5 linked regions of the Homo sapiens genome follow. The protein of the gene in region 1 purifies or fractionates together with the protein of each later gene. This does not show direct contact. Each region holds a gene or a part of one and is shown in the gene's direction. Other genes may lie near its edges. The genes, in order: H2AZ2, HK2, FKBP9, TRNT1 and XPNPEP1.

Evidence for each region.
Region 2: the proteins of H2AZ2 (region 1) and HK2 fractionate together in Homo sapiens (co-fractionation; one large-scale study listed by BioGRID). This does not show direct contact.
Region 3: the proteins of H2AZ2 (region 1) and FKBP9 fractionate together in Homo sapiens (co-fractionation; one large-scale study listed by BioGRID). This does not show direct contact.
Region 4: the proteins of H2AZ2 (region 1) and TRNT1 fractionate together in Homo sapiens (co-fractionation; one large-scale study listed by BioGRID). This does not show direct contact.
Region 5: the proteins of H2AZ2 (region 1) and XPNPEP1 fractionate together in Homo sapiens (co-fractionation; one large-scale study listed by BioGRID). This does not show direct contact.

What each region holds. Positions count from the first base shown.
Region 1 is NC_000007.14:44,841,582-44,845,102, reverse strand, and holds part of H2AZ2 (histone H2A.V), read left to right. Parts: intron 1-1,748; coding exon 1,749-1,826; intron 1,827-3,521. UniProt on the Homo sapiens protein: Variant histone H2A which replaces conventional H2A in a subset of nucleosomes. Nucleosomes wrap and compact DNA into chromatin, limiting DNA accessibility to the cellular machineries which require DNA as a template.
Region 2 is NC_000002.12:74,886,109-74,889,629, forward strand, and holds part of HK2 (hexokinase-2), read left to right. Parts: intron 1-185; coding exon 186-285; intron 286-381; coding exon 382-565; intron 566-1,794; coding exon 1,795-1,950; intron 1,951-3,136; coding exon 3,137-3,370; intron 3,371-3,521. UniProt on the Homo sapiens protein: Catalyzes the phosphorylation of hexose, such as D-glucose and D-fructose, to hexose 6-phosphate (D-glucose 6-phosphate and D-fructose 6-phosphate, respectively).
Region 3 is NC_000007.14:33,004,924-33,007,439, forward strand, and holds the end of FKBP9 (peptidyl-prolyl cis-trans isomerase FKBP9 isoform 1 precursor), read left to right. Parts: intron 1-251; coding exon 252-428; 3' UTR 429-2,005; downstream 2,006-2,516. UniProt on the Homo sapiens protein: PPIases accelerate the folding of proteins during protein synthesis.
Region 4 is NC_000003.12:3,129,926-3,133,446, forward strand, and holds part of TRNT1 (CCA tRNA nucleotidyltransferase 1, mitochondrial), read left to right. Parts: exon of another isoform or gene 1-754; intron 755-3,521. UniProt on the Homo sapiens protein: Nucleotidyltransferase that catalyzes the addition and repair of the essential 3'-terminal CCA sequence in tRNAs, which is necessary for the attachment of amino acids to the 3' terminus of tRNA molecules, using CTP and ATP as substrates. tRNA 3'-terminal CCA addition is required both for tRNA processing and repair.
Region 5 is NC_000010.11:109,913,503-109,917,023, reverse strand, and holds part of XPNPEP1 (xaa-Pro aminopeptidase 1), read left to right. Parts: intron 1-1,924; coding exon 1,925-2,013; intron 2,014-3,521. UniProt on the Homo sapiens protein: Metalloaminopeptidase that catalyzes the removal of a penultimate prolyl residue from the N-termini of peptides, such as Arg-Pro-Pro. Contributes to the degradation of bradykinin.

The sequences.
Region 1 (3,521 bases):
GGTTAGCTACAAAGGGGATATGCCATTTCAAAGCTTACCATCTATTTTGAAAGAATAGCCCCTCAAACAGCCAATCTTGTAAACTGATTTCTTTTTTTAACAGTAAAGAAATAATCTGTTTAAATGGTAAAAGCAAAATATATGAGAGAAAATTAGTTTTCTTAAGTCAGACCTTTAGTATTTCCTCCCGAGAGGCAAATAACATTTCTAATTTATTGTGTCACCTACTAGAAATACATGTGTACACATATACTCTATAATACCCCATATTTACTTAAAAGCTCATTACATTGGCACATACTTTGCCTTTTTCATGCAGAAATAGGTTTTTTTAAAGCGTACAGTTCAGTGGCATTAAGTACATTTATAGTGTGCAACCATCACTGCCTTCTGCCTCTAGAACTTTTTCATCTTCCCAAGTGGAAACTCTACCCATTCAACAATAACTCGGCCAGGCGCAGTGGCTCACGCCTGTAATCCCAGTACTTTGGGAGGATGAGACAGGCAGATCACTTGAGGTCAGGAGTTCAAGACCAGCCTGGCCAACATGCAGAAACCTTGTTGGTACTAAAAATACAAAAATTAGCAGGGCATGGTGGCGCGCACCTATACTACCAGCTACTTAGGAGGCTGAGGCAGGAGAATCACTTGAACCCAGGAGGCAGCTACCCCTGGCAACCACAAATCTGCTTTCTGACCATGAACTTTACTATTTTAGGGACCTCATAAGTAGAATCATACAGTATTTGTCTTTTTTGTAACTGGCTTATTTTCCTTAGCATAATGTCCTCAAGGCCCATTCATGTTGTAGCTTGTGTCAGAATTTCCTTTTTAAAGCTGAATACTATTCCATTATATGTATATCATTTTGTTCATCCATCATTGGACACTCAAGATTGTTTCTACCTTTTGGCTATTCTGAATAATGCTTCTGTGAACGTGGGTATACATGTATTTGTTTGAATCCTTGCTTTCAATTTTTAGGTGTATACCTAGAAGTGGAATTGCTAGACTATATGACAATTCTGTGTTTAATTTTTTGAGGTTTTTTTTTTTTTTCTTGGAACATGCTTTATTTTTCTGAGAGCTAAGTTCTAAATATTTCTGTGGAAGTAATATATGTTACATTGACATTGATAAAAATTGTGAAATATTTCATGTATGCATAAAAGTTATATTGACTTGCAAGATTCTTTAATCTGGAAATTGATAAATATGTTTGTTTTTAAAAATCTCATATTTTTCAGCCTGGCACTGTGGCTTATGCCTGTAATCCCAGCACTTTGGGAGGCCTAGGCGGGCGGATCACTTGAGGTCAGGAGTTCAAGACCAGCTTGGCCAACATAGTGAAACCCACCTCTACTAAAAATACAAAAATTAGCCATGTGTGGTGGTGTGCGCCTGTAATCTCAGCTACTCAGGAGGCTGAGGCAGGAGAATCGCTTGAGCCCAGGAGGTGGAGTTTGCAGTGAGTCAAGGTCGCACCACTGCACTCCAGCCTGGGCAACAGAGCTAGACTCCATCTCAAGAAAAAAGAAAAATATTTTAAATAAGTGTTTAAGGTTTGATTTCTTTGATAGAAATTATAAAAGGTGATAGAATCCCATGTATATTTACAAATGAGGAAGGGGATCACCTACATATTGTTAACTACCTAAAGTAAAACTAGAAAAAATTCTGTTTCCAGAATATTTTTGAAGTAGTATTTTCAACTCTTTTCATTCAAAAAAATTTTTTTTTGCATTTAGGCTGGAGGCAAAGCTGGAAAGGACAGTGGGAAGGCCAAGGCTAAGGCAGTATCTCGCTCACAGAGAGCTGGGCTACAGGTAATGAATCCATGCTGTCATTACATTATTATTTTCTTTACTGTTGTAATTTATGACCTATGTTTCATCAATTACAAAAATCTACTTGTATTACTACAGACTTTTTTTTTTTTTTTTTTTTTTTTTTTTTTTTTTTTTTGAGACAGAGTCTCACTCTGTCGTCAGGCTGGAGTGCAGTGGTGCAATCTCGGCTCACTGCAACCTCTGCCTCCTGGATTCAAGCGATTCTCCTGCCTCAGGCTCCCACATAGCTGGGACTGCAGGCGTGCGCCACCATACCCAGCTAGTTTTTGTATTTTTAGTAGAGACGGGATTTCACCATGTTGGCCAAGATGGTCTCAATCTCTTGACCTCGTGATCTGCCTGCCTCAGCCTCCCAGAGGGCTGGAATTACAGGCATGAGCCACCGCGCCTGGCTGAGAAACCCTTTTAATCAGGAAGGCTAAGCTGTAAACTGTTATCCTCTTGGCAGTGGTAAGCCATTGAGAGTTTGAGCCAGAGGACAACATTATCCAGATGATACCGAAAGAAGGGGGATGGGAACTTAAACTGATATGCACATTCTGTATTTTAGGTCTCCATGTATATTCCCAATTAGAATTTATTTTAAGGCATACTTAATTTGAAGTAGAAAATGGAAGGCCAATGGAGGTTTTTGCAGTGGTTTAGGAATAAAGTAACATACTTGAATGGGAAGGAGTAGAAAGCATGTGTGTGCAGAAAATAGGTGAAGCAGTATAAGGTTGAGAGAAAGTCACAGGTTTCTCTAAGGCTTAGAACCTAAGGAACAGAGGAGTTTGTAGTAGGGGCAAGTTATGAGTAAATTTAAATGGAATCATTTTGAAGTTCACTAAAACATCCATGTGAAAATGTCCAGAAGTTGGAAACATGAGTTCAGCTTTCTAATAGAGGTGATAGAATTAGGAATTTGAGATCATTTATGTAAAATGGATAGTTTATGTTATGGATGAGTTTCCTAACCTAAGAGAATGAGAAAGGAGCACAGGGACGTTGGTGGACCCCTGAAAAACTTTAAGAAAAGGCTGAGGAGTAGTCAGACTTGGTATGAGAACTCTGAAGTCTAAGATGAAATGTTTTTGAGGGCCTACTGTATGCCAGACAACATACTGGTTACTAAGGATACAAAGGAAAAGAAGACATAAATCTTGCCCTTAAGAAGCTTTTGGTCACTTAGAGATGAAGTATAAATGCAAAAAAAAGATTGCTTGTTTTTATTAAGGAAGTAAAATGTCACTGCTGGCCTTCAAAGGTCAAGTTAGGGTTAGGAAAAATGGGTGACAAGGAAGTAAGGGTTTCAGGATTTGTTTTTTCAATTCAGTCTTTGGAAAGAGACTGTCTAGACTGTAACTGGAAGCAGTTTTCATAGATTGTGAAGTTTTCAGTAAAGTCTGTAGAAGGAAAGGAACCAGCGGAAAGGAAGTAATTGTAGCTGTTGAAATAATGGAGCAGTGAAGGGTTGAGGGAGGCCTGTAAGAAAGGCACAGACTGGCGGGGCACAGTGGCTCATGCCTGTAATCCCAGCACTTTGGGAGGCTAAGGTGGACAGATCACTCAAAACCCTGTCTCTACTAAAAATACAAAACAGCCAGGCGTCCTGGCGCGCCTATAATCCCACCTACTCAGGAGGCTGAGGCAGGAGAATCGCCTGAACCCGGGAGGCGGAGGTTGCAGTGA
Region 2 (3,521 bases), on another chromosome or scaffold:
AAATAGCACAACTTGGGAGGGTCTCACCAAAGAGGTGACATTTAAGCACAGACCTGAATGGAATGAGAGGGTCAGCCATGGTGTATGATATATATTTTATATACCTGTAAATCTCCCATGCAATTGTCTGAAAGGAGAATATTGGGGTTCACCTGTGAACTGGGCATCTGCTTCTTCCCTCTCAGGAGTTTGACCTGGATGTGGTTGCTGTGGTGAACGACACAGTCGGAACTATGATGACCTGTGGCTTTGAAGACCCTCACTGTGAAGTTGGCCTCATTGTTGGTAAGGACCCAGACTGTCCTTTCCACATGGGGATGCACAGCCTTGGGTGTGGAGGGGTTGGTGCTGAGTGAGGCCCTGGTATCCTGTGATTGGCAGGCACGGGCAGCAATGCCTGCTACATGGAGGAGATGCGCAACGTGGAACTGGTGGAAGGAGAAGAGGGGCGGATGTGTGTGAACATGGAATGGGGGGCCTTCGGGGACAATGGATGCCTAGATGACTTCCGCACAGAATTTGATGTGGCTGTGGATGAGCTTTCACTCAACCCCGGCAAGCAGAGGTAGGCACCCAACTGGGGCCCTGTTAAGTGTATCCCAGGACTGGATGGCAACAAGTGATCAGAGCTTCCACAATGGCATCTCCCAGGACGCCGGTTCTCGTGAGATGTTAATAAAGGAGGTTTTCTTGGAAAGGGTTTCTTGTCGAATGCACCTGGAAAGTTCTGAGTTAGTAAATGTAAGAAGCATCTCCCACCCAAAAGCCTAGGAGAACAGGTGGGAGAATACTAGACCCTAGGTCTGGCACTCTAAGGAGAAACAAGTAGAAAGTTGAAGCACCTGCTGCTGACAGGCTGAAGAGCATCTCTTGGGTGATGCAGACAGGAGCAAATCCTCTCCCTCCTCCATCTTCCAGCGCCGAGCACCACCTACTGTCAGAATTGAGCAAGGGGCCAGCCCCAGTGTCACAAGGTCCTGTGCATGGTAGGGGAGCGGGGTCTGAGCTAAGAGACAATAGCTTAAGATCTAACACACTTCTCATTAAGATGTTGTCTGTAGTGTTTCCTAACTAGATTAATCAAACACCCTAGTCCTGCAGAATACGCTTTGCAAAACATGTGTCTAGAATAGAAGTTACAGACTAAAATGCCTCTAGGGGCCAGGCAGGCAACATTAATGAAGGAAGCAGGCTGGGTCAAGATAAGATGGGGTGGTGATGGGCTATTGGTTGAAACTAGGGACCTCGTTTTTTTTTCAAGGCAGGATTCAGGACCAAAAGACCCTCAAGCCACTGCATAATAACGTTTAGTTCCAGTGGCCAGGATGGGGGCCCTACAGCTGGCAGTAGTTACTTGAGTAATGATGGTTAGGTCCAAGAGAATGTATACTGAATGCCTAGTGAGGTTAAAGATTAAGACTCAGCATTCTCCCCTGCTCCGAGAAGTCCAGTGGGGTTATGGTGTGTTCCTTCTCGAGTTGCTTCTTGAAATTTCGAAATAAGCCTTGGAAAGGAAATGAGTTCCTTTCCCTGTGGGTTCCTTTCCAAGGCTTATTTCCCCAGGAGCCCCACGGGCCTCGGGCACTGTGGTCAGTGTTGCTGAAGGTTGTGAATTAGCATGCAAAGACACCAGGGATCCTGCCCAAGTGAATCAAGTAGCAATTCCTTTCCCATCAGGGGAGTCTGCCTGTCTGCCACTGCTGATGCACTGGGGGTGACTAAGCTGGCCTGTCCTGTCTCAACACATCCCTCCACCTTCCTACTTAACCTCCATGAATGTTACTTGCATTGCAGGTTCGAGAAAATGATCAGTGGAATGTACCTGGGTGAGATTGTCCGTAACATTCTCATCGATTTCACCAAGCGTGGACTACTCTTCCGAGGCCGCATCTCAGAGCGGCTCAAGACAAGGGGCATCTTTGAAACCAAGTTCTTGTCTCAGATTGAGAGGTGAGAGCTTAGGGCTCAGGGTAGCAGGGGGGCCATGTCCTTTTTTCTCACTGGCAGACAAACTGAAGGATTTCCATAACTCAGGGCATGACTCATACAAAAGTCAGTTTAGTGGCAAACACATTCATGTCTATAGTGTTTACTAAAAGCACATTATGGGCAGTTGTCATTTTAAGGGCAAACAGAGCATTCTCATGAAAGTTTGTGCTAAGCCTGGCCTGAGGTCATGCAAAGTGATATTGTTGGGTTTTAGACCATGTATCAAAGGTAGAAAGATACCTGCTCATAGCATGTAAATTGAAACGCACAGAGGAAGATAACCTATTAAAGCATCCACACTTGGCTTGAAAGCCCTTCCTAACTGCTGGCTGCAGTAATCAGGCAGCCAGGATTGAGTAAAGGTTGGAACGTCAGGCAATGCAGACACATGCCACACAGTGGCTCATTAGAGCAAAGCCTCCCTCCTACAGTCAAATGGTGGAAAATCTCCAAATTAGAACAGTGAATTTCAGAGCCCTTTAAAAATTAATGCTGTGCCATTACTCTCAGGGCAGAGAAGAACAGGAACTAGACAACTGATGTGAGTAGACCCCTCGGGCATCTGCACCAGTGAATAGAAAGATATATTCTAGCTTATAGGTCTGTTATGTTCAGCGAGGTGATTCCAGGCTTCTAAAATAGCTTTCTTTATATAGGAGGGTTTATTTTCTTTCTATAACTTTATTTACACTTCCTTCGTAAATAGCATATAAATACAGTTCAGACCACCCAGAGCAGCAGAGCAGAAATAAAGCACGAGTCTAATGCTGCTTGGTTAGTTCCTGCCCTGCAAACCCATGAACAGCAGCGAGAAAATGGACATGAAAGAGCTTTGTAACTGACCACTGTGATAAACAGTGAATTTGCTTTGTTTTGAGTATCTACTTTGTAGTAGTAATGGTCTATCTGGAGTAGGGAGAGTAGAATGAGGAGCTGTTTGTATTCCTGTCACCGTCAGGAAGAGTCAATGCAGTGCAGTAGGTTGAGCAGTGGTCTGAATTTAGGAATGGGAACCACCTCGAGGGGCCAGCTCCTGGAGAGCTAGACCCCCACAGAGCCTCCCCTGTAAGGACTCAGGCCCTGGTGTGGTAGGCTACCAGCCTTCTTGGTGCATGACTGAACACTTGCTGTCTCCCTCCCACCCCAGTGACTGCCTGGCCCTGCTGCAAGTCCGAGCCATCCTGCAACACTTAGGGCTTGAGAGCACCTGTGACGACAGCATCATTGTTAAGGAGGTGTGCACTGTGGTGGCCCGGCGGGCAGCCCAGCTCTGTGGCGCAGGCATGGCCGCTGTGGTGGACAGGATACGAGAAAACCGTGGGCTGGACGCTCTCAAAGTGACAGTGGGTGTGGATGGGACCCTCTACAAGCTACATCCTCAGTGAGTGCCTGATCCCAGCCCCCCCTGCCTACCTTCTTTCTGTCTTTGTTCTTTCCCTTTTCTTTCTCTCTTTCCTTTGTTACTTTATAGTGAATTATCAGCCATTCCAAATAGTGTATATAATACATGGATTATAGTTTAAAGATTCATA
Region 3 (2,516 bases), about 12 Mb from region 1:
CTGCTGGGTATTGGCTACCTGAATAATAAGGGCTCTTGGAGTCATTTAGCACAAGGGTTTTTCACCTGCATTTAGAGAAAAAAAACAAAACACAGATCATAGGTCATATAGCTGCCAAAAAGATCTTGTCTGTGTTGGTAGCCCAGACTCAAGTTCCAGCCCTGTCACCCCCAGACTGCTCTGTTTCTGGCCCCAGGCCTGGCGTTCATGGCGGCTGAACTCATGGTCTTTCCTGTCCCCTTCTTTTCCAGTTCTCAGAGTACATTCACGCCCAGGTGGCATCTGGCAAAGGGAAACTCGCTCCTGGCTTTGATGCTGAGCTGATTGTGAAGAATATGTTCACCAACCAGGACCGGAATGGAGATGGGAAGGTCACAGCCGAGGAATTTAAACTCAAAGACCAGGAAGCCAAACACGATGAACTCTAAACCTGGCATGAACCAGATGGTGCCAGGGAGTACGTGACACCAAGCCACCTGTGTGGCAAGACGTGCAGTGAGGGTGCAAGGGTCTCTCAGAAGTTGCATCATTAGCCAGTAGTAGGTGGGTCACATAGTACCTGGTGTACACATCGGGGTGGGTTGATATATGGGGTGAGAAGTTTGGGCTGATCGCCAGTGATAGTAAACAAAATCTGTGCAGAGGGCCTTAGCATGGGATGTGTCCAGTATTGAAAAGGCTGCACTGCCAACCATGATTTGTGAGCCTTCTGGGAAATTTTGTTATTAAAGGAATATATAGTGTCAGACGGAAGTTATAATCATCTTGGAGGAACCATAAGAAAAGGTGTCCAGGGTATCTATATAAAGAGGGTTAAATTTTTTTTTAACTTGCTGGTTAAAACATTTTAGAAATATTCTAGAGATGGGCAGGAGAGTCAAAGGGCTTGCTTGCCCCAGCAGAGTTCCCAGCAGACAGCCATGGCTCTTCCCAGCAGCCTGTGCAAATTCTGATGATGGCCCCACCCCCGCACACGCACACGCACATCATGCTTTTCCAGCTCATCACACCCCGCCCCACTATGGGCCTACCATTAATAGTGTATAACTTGGAGGTTAAAAGAGCCTTTTGGACAGAAAACTGGGCCAGGAAAAGGCATCTCAGACCACAAATAGAGAATTTGATTCCTCATTTGCCACATAAGTCATCTGCTTAGCTTTTCCTTTCCTTTTTTTTTTTTTTTTTTTTTCTGGAGGCAGAGTCTCCCTTTGTCGCCAGGCTGGAGTGCAGTGGTGCCATCTCGGCTCACTGCAGCACTGTCTCGGCTCACTGCAGCCTCCGCCTCCCGTATTCAAGCGATTCTCCTGTCTCAGCCTCCTGAGTAGCTGGGACTACAGGTGTGCACCACCACGCCCGGCTAATTTTTGTATTTTTAGTAGAGACGGGGTTTCACTGTGTTGGCCAGGATGGTCTCAATCTCGACCTCGTGATCCGCCCACCTTGGCCTCCCAAAGTGTTGGGATTACAGGCGTGACTCACCATGCCCAGCCACTTAGTTTTTTCTTATTCCCACCTTTCTATCCCATAGAACACTCTTTTTTATCTTCCCTGAACCATATTGATGAGATAAATAGGGCTGGGGGCTGGGCCCCGCTGGTCACTCAACAGAGTATTTCCCTTGGCCGAGATGGAAGTTTTGTCCCAATAGATGAGCTGCTGAGCATCAACAAGGTGACATTTTTCTGCTGCCCATTTGTGTCCTGGAGACGGTGGTACCCTGAAGGCAGAGGCCAGCTGCCGCAAGACAGCAATGACAGTCCACCTGCCGACCTGATTCCTGCATCATGGAATAACCACATGGCTACCTTCTATCCTCTGTTCCCAAATGGTGGTGGCACTTATCCTGAAGTCGTCAATGATTTCCCTTTGAAACTACTTTATTTTACTAATTTAAACTATTTTGTACTGATGTAGCCCTGAGGTAGTTCATGAAAATGCTGTGCACTCATTCCATGGAATAAATGTTGGAAAGCTGATCTTTTCTGATATAAAATGTTGAATGATATTATCTGGTTTTCTGATATTTTATTGGAAGGCTGAAGACCTATGAGAATGCACCATGCAGTCAGAATCCCCTTGATGAAAACAGCAGGACTTCACTGCATTTACTGAGGGAGCGCACTCTACTTATAGGGAGTGTCAGTCAGGGTCCTGGCCCTCCTCTGGGACTCCTGAAGAGAAGCTAAGGAAAGGACTGTTTAGAGGGGTGTGGGCGAGGCTGGGGGAACTGAGGCTGTTGAGTGCCAGTGACAGCAGTGTTGGCCACCGCAGGAGGCTGCTACCACCAGGGCCTGAGAGCTCAAGAGGAGGCAGTGGGAGCAGCACAGGAAGGGCTACCTGGAGGCGTAACAGAGGGATGCAGCCAGCTGCATCTGACAGTGCGGCTGACACTGCAGCAGAGCGAGGGACAAACGCCCCATCCCCTCTGTGCCCCCATTCTCTGATGCCTGCCACTGGCTCCCATTAGTGGAACCATGTTGGAAGCCAGAGGGTAAGAGGAGCTCAGAGACTGGAGT
Region 4 (3,521 bases), on another chromosome or scaffold:
TGCTTTCCATGAGAACTGAAGGAAGAAGGAAATAGGAGTTGCCTCCATTGTGCACGTTGCAAAACCTGTCTGGAAGGAGCATAGGAAATGGCTTTAGCTAAGTGCCAGTAGCTTCTTGCTGTTGCCACAGTTTCATTAGTGTTGATTCTCAATGTTGTCTGCTGATGTTGCTAAAGCAGCCACACAGTAGCATTACAAAGCCTGTGGGAATTTTAATAGCACCTTCATAAATATATTTAGTAGTATATGTAGAAATATGACCTATACAGCACTGGCTATCTATTAGATTCACCTGGGGAGCTTTTAAAGCACACATGCTCGGGTTCTACCTGCAGCCTACTGAATTAGAATCTCTGGGTGGGATGACCATCTATATTTTTAATAAAAGCTCCACAAGTTAATTCTGATGCACAGAAGATAGACGAACCATTACTTTAACATGACTCACCTTGTATTAGCTTATTCTCAAAGCTACTTTCCCATTCTTGAAATTGGATGATGGCTTTTTAGGTACGTGCCAGAGATAAATGGCCCAGAATATGTTGATTCTTTTAGATTGTTTTAGGCAGACTTTAAGTAGAGGGCTTAAATGCATGTTTGGTTTTGCCGATGCTTCACTATCTTTTTTAATTGGAGAGAGTGAAAATTGCTAAAAATTGCTGTCCAATAGAAATTTATGAGCCCATATGTAATATAAACTTTTTTACTAACCACATTAAAAAGATAGAAATGGTGAAATAAATTTTAATAATTATTTTTGGTTCATCTAATTTAATCCAATATATCTAAGATACTATCAGTATGAATTTTGTATAAAAATTGTTAATGAGGCCGGGCACAGTGTCTCCCACCTGTAATCCTAGCACTTTGGGAGGCTGGACATGGTGGCTCATACCTGTAATCCCAGCACTTTTGAGTGGCTGAGGTGGGTGGATCACTTGAGCCCAGGAGTTTGAGACCAGCCTGGGCAACACGGTGAAACCCCATCTCTACTAAAAATATGAAAAATAGGCAAGCATACTGATATGTGTCTGTAGTCCCTGCTACTTGGGAGGCTGAGGTGGGAGGATCACTGAAGCCTGGGAGGGGGGCTTGCGGTAAGCCGAGATTGTGCCACTACACTCCAGCCTGGGCGACACAGACCGTGTCTTTAAAAAAAAAAAAAAATTAATGAGATATTTTATATTCTTACTTGGAAGTCTTTGAAGTCTGGCATGCATTTAATACAGCACATCTGAATTCAGACTTACCACATTTTAAGTGCTCAGTAAGTACAAGTGGCTGCTGTTTGAATAGTGCAGATTTTGAAGCTGTGATTTTGGGTTGAGTTGAAGCTTTTTTCTTTCTGTGTATGCCCTTCACAGCCCCCAATTTTTCAACTTCAATTGCAAGAGGCCTCTTGGAAGAAGGAGTAGTAATTAACTCTTGATGGCCTAACTCAGGTCATTCTGCATTTTTTGGAAATAAGGTTCTAAATATTGATTACTATAGTTTCTTGAACATCATTTTAACAATTGTGTTTAACGTTCTAAACCTGAAACTGGCTAGCCATATGTAGAAAGCTGAAACTGGATCCCTTCCTTACACCTTATACAAAAATCAATTCAAGATGGATTAAAGATTTAAACGTTAGACCTAAAACCATAAAAACCCTAGAAGAAAACCTAGGCATTACCATTCAGGACATAGGCGTGGGCGAGGACTTCATGTCCAAAACACCAAAAGCAATGGCAACAAAAGCCAGAATTGACAAATGGGATCTAATTAAACTAAAGAGCTTCTGCACAGCAAAAGAAACTACCATCAGAGTGAACAGGCAACCCACAACATGGGAGAAAATTTTCGCAACCTACTCATCTGACAAAGGGCTAATATCCAGAATCTACAATGAACTCAAACAAATTTACAAGAAAAAAACAAACAACCCCATCAAAAAGTGGGCGAAGGACATGAACAGACACTTCTCAAAAGAAGACATTTATGCAGCCAAAAAACACATGAAAAAATGCTCATCATCACTGGCCATCAGAGAAATGCAAATCAAAACCACTATGAGATATCATCTCACACCAGTTAGAATGGCAATCATTAAAAAGTCAGGAAACAACAGGTGCTGGAGAGGATGTGGAGAAATAGGAACACTTTTACACTGTTGGTGGGACTGTAAACTAGTTCAACCATTGTGGAAGTCAGTGTGGCGATTCCTCAGGGATCTAGAACTAGAAATACCATTTGACCCAGCCATCCCATTACTGGGTATATACCCAAAGGACTATAAATCATGCTGCTATAAAGAGACATGCACACGTATGTTTATTGCGGCACTATTCACAATAGCAAAGACTTGGAACCAACCCAAATGTCCAACAATGATAGACTGGATTAAGAAAATGTGGCACATATACACCATGGAATACTATGCAGCCATAAAAAATGATGAGTTCATGTCCTTTGTAGGGACATGGATGAAACTGGAAACCATCATTCTCAGTAAACTATCGCAAGAACAAAAAACCAAACACCGCATATTCTCACTCATAGGTGGGAATTGAACAATGAGATCACATGGACACAGGAAGGGGAATATCACACTCTGGGGACTGTGGTGGGGTCGGGGGAGGGGGGAGGGATAGCATTGGGAGATATACCTAATGCTAGATGACACGTTAGTGGGTGCAGCGCACCAGCATGGCACATGTATACATATGTAACTAACCTGCACAATGTGCACATGTACCCTAAAACTTAGAGTATAATAAAAAAAAAAAAATTAAAAAAATAAAAAAAAACATATACCTATTGAAGGAAAAAAAAAAAAACACAAAAAAAAAACACTGGATTTTCTCCACCCTGAGAAATGAGGTCCTAAGGAAGTTAGAGCCTAAATGGTGTGGTAAGGTAGAGGTGGTGATTGCTTCCAGAGTCCTGTCCTTGAAGGACTGGCAAATGAGAACATGGATATATTCTAAAGTTGACTTTTTCTAGGCTACTGGAGAAGTGGCAAGAATGGAATCTTTTAGTGCAATGATCAACAAGTTAGAATGTCAAAGACTTGGGTGCCCTGGTAAAATGTAATGTTCTGTATAAAATCAAAATGTACAAAAACACACAGCCTTTCTGATGGCTGCTATATAGTGATACTTGGAGTTTAAATCCTGTACCAATTTTCAAATCTTAATAGCTGCTTTGCCATGTGTAAAATTAGTTTTCAGTATGCAAGAATATGAGAGACTAGAATAGTGTATTATTGTCATATCATAAGGGTTTTATAATTTGTCAGGTTATTTTATGTATCTTTTTGCTTCAGTACAATCATATGCTAGTGGCATAGAAGATTATTTCCCAGCTAGCTGTGGTAGCTCATGCCTATAATCTCCCAGCACTTTGGGAGGCCGAGATGGGAGAATTGCTTGAGCCCAGGAGTTAGAGACCAGCCTGAGCAACATAGTGAAATCCCATCTGTACAAAAATAATAATAATAAATTTAGCCAGTTACAGTGATGCACACCTGTAGTCCCAGC
Region 5 (3,521 bases), on another chromosome or scaffold:
TCAGCATTAAGAATGATGTTAGCTGTAGGTTTTGTAATAACTTTTGTCAGGTTGAGGAATTTTTCTTCTAGTTTGCTGAGTACTTTTAACTTGAAGGGGCATTGGATTTTGTCGTGCTTTTTCTGCGTTTGTTGAGAAGACCATGTAGATTTTGTTCTTTATTCTATTGATATGGCCTGTTATAATAATTGATTTTTCATATATTGAGCCAACCTTGTATTCCTGGGATAAGACCCACTTGGCGATGATGATCCTTTTTATATTGTTCTAGATTCCGTTTGCTGGTATTTTGTTGAGGATATTTGTATTTATATTTTAGAAGACATATTGGGGTGTCTTACTTTTTTATGAAAGAATAATATGTTTACTCTCGTTAAGAACATCCCATTCTGTCCAGTAAAACTAAAGTCACAGCCATATGAAAGCAGGCCTAGAGTCATTGGTAAAGCTGCCTGGTTATCTGGTTCTTACCGTGTGGTAGACTGAGCTAATGTGTCCCTCTCTGTCTTTACCAACATGTAAAAATGCGGTTAAATTATAACTTAATTGAGTTCATAGCTGAGTAAAATTCAAAACCTTTTCTATGGCCCCACAGTAGGCCCCCTGGTGCCTCAATGATGTTGTCTCTGAACCACTTACCTCCCCATCCCCTGATACAATCACACTGCGCTGACCTTCTTGCTTTTCCTCAGGTAAACTAGACATACTCCTGCCTCATGGCCTTTGCACTTGCTGTTGTCCTGGAACATTGTTCCCCTAGCCGTTCACATGGCTTGCTTCCTCACTCTTTTTAGGTCTGTGTTAAAATGTTGTCTGTTATAATAGAGGCTGTCCCTGGCTACCCCATATGAAATAATCCTTCCCCTTACCTCCTTGATGCTTTCTTCCCCTTGCTGTGCTTTACTTTTTTTCACAAAACACGTTCTTATTACTTGACGTATTGTGTACTTGTTTTGTGTCTGTTGCCTTCTCTTCCCTGTCTTCTGCCCATCCCCCTGCCTTGCCCCATCTTAATTTGTTAAAGTCAGAGATCTTGTCTGTTTTGTTCACTGTTGTGTCCAGAATAGGGCCTGGATTATGGAAGATTTTTCAATAAATATTTGTTGACTGAATGAACTTGAAAGAAAGAGAAATCCTCAAGTGCCAAAAATGTAGAGGGAACCTAACGCCTGAGTGGTATGCTAGTAACCTGAGCCTGGGAAAGTTACCAGATGCAGATATAGACCTTCATGCCTGGTGTCCAGGGCATTAGACTATCCCCATATGGGAACAAGAAGTTTGTGTGTAAATCTTCTAGCTAATAAATTAATGTGAAAGTCTTAGAAGCAAACAATAACAGAACTGCTTGTACAAACCAGGACCCATCACATTCTCATAGATAAATAGCCTCTATTGAAGATAAGCTCTTAATAAAAGATCACAAAACGCAGAAGGAATGAACCACCAAGAGGGAGAGGCAGCAGACCTAGCAAACATGAGGGTTAGTCTCCCAAGATCTATTTGAAAGTATGGGAGAAATTATAAAATAAGGGCCTACAGTAATGAAGGCACAAAGAGAAGGCATAGAAACCAGAGTGCAAGAATAGGACACCATAAAGAAAGAACGGGCAGATGTGAAAAAGAACCAAATAGAACTTGTGTAAGGAAAAAACATTGAAAATAAGTCTTCTTAGTCTAGTTAAATAGGAGGTGTGAGAATTTATGAACTAGAAGCTGCAACTGAGAAGGTTAACCTGCCATGGGGATGTTTTACACCTGCAAGTTTTACATCAAACTTTTATTTATTCTGCCACTGATAATGGGGGTGAAAGTTCTTCTGACTCATGTTAGAGAACTGCTAAGTTAAGCGATGCCTCCTCTAACTGAGCCTTGCCACGTTTATTGTGGTCAAAGTCTGCAACTTCCTGTTCTTTCTCTCCTTAAGGGTGAATCACCAGGATTTTCAACTGAGAAATTTAAGAATAATTGAACCTAACGAGGTGACACACTCAGGAGACACAGGTGTGGAAACAGGTAATAATTTTGTCTGGAAATTAGATGGAACATCTGTAAAGGATTTTAGATCTCCACCCCAACCCCAGGTTGGGTGAGAAGAAGAGGGTAAGGAATTAGTAACAGATCATGACTGGGGGTTAGTATCTGGAAGTTAAAAACCATTTTATTTTTTGGCTTCCTAAGTGGTTGGTTACTGTTTCTATATATTTACCATTTTTTTTTTTTTTTTTTGAGACGGAGTCTCGCCCTTGGTCACCCAGCCTGGAGTGCAATGGCGTGATCTCGGCTCACTGCAACCTCCGTCTCCCGGGTTCAAGCGATTCTCCTGCCTCAGCCTCCGGAGTAGCTGGGATTACAGGCGCCCGACACCACGCCCAGCTAATTTTGTATTTTTAGTAGAGATGGGGTTTCTCCATGTTGGCCAGGCTGGTCTTGAACTCCCGACCTCAGGTGATCTGCCCGCCTTGGCCTCCCAAAGTGCTGGGATTACAGGCATGAGCCACTGCGCCTGGCCATTACCATTTTTTTTTAAGGTAGTAAGTTAGAGAATTACAACTTTTTTTTTGTTGTTTGTTTTTTTCGTTTTCCATTTTTGTCAGAGTGGTGGTGGTGGAGAAGGAGATAGGTTATTATGGAAAATGTTCTCTATTTCTCTAATATAGTCCTTCATTATCTTAGAAATTAGCTTTCAATTTTGATCATAAGATTGCAAAATGAGAAAAGCTTGTAATATATTATTGTCCTTTATAAATTGAGTGTGCATTTAGGAAAGTCTTTTTGGGAAATATTTCTTGGCTGTCCCTTCTCCCCAGAACTGGTTAATTGTCTGATGGGTTGCCAGAAACCTGAATTCTGAAAAGTGGTGTATTACTGTATTTCTATCCCAGTAAGCCAGTACTGCTCTAACGACTACTAAGGAGAACCATGTGTTTTTTTTTTTTTTAGCTGACTGAAAAATTGATCTCTTGAAGTACATAAGAAACCATGCCCGTCTAATCTCTGTTTGGAAGATCAGTGCTATAATTGCATGCAATTTTAGATCCTTTTTCTTTAAAAAATATAGATGTATCCAACACATTTTGGACCATATTAGGAGGTAGCAGAGGAAGGAGGAAAAAGAGAAAGTAAAGAAAGGAAAAAAGTGATGGAATCATTAAACTTAGAGTTGGAAGATAACTTCTTTTTCTTTTTGTAATGTATGAGGAAATAGAGGTTAGGTAGCTTCAGTTGCCTGAGGTTGTAGATCCCAGCTGGAAACTGGAGCTCACTTGTTTTGCTTCTGTTGGTCTTAGAACACTTTAAGGCTCTATTATGTCCCCCAGCTAATATGGTGTAATAGAGCATGGACTTGGGAATTGCATAGACCTTGAGTCCCGGTTCCTGATGAACCAGCTGACTTTGGGCAAGTACTTAACTCCTTTTAACTCCTGTTCCTTTATGTGTAAAATGAGAATAGTGAAACCTCCCTTGGAGGATTGTTGTGAGAATTAGCCACTAATGTATGTAAAGCCCTTAGCGTTCCCTCA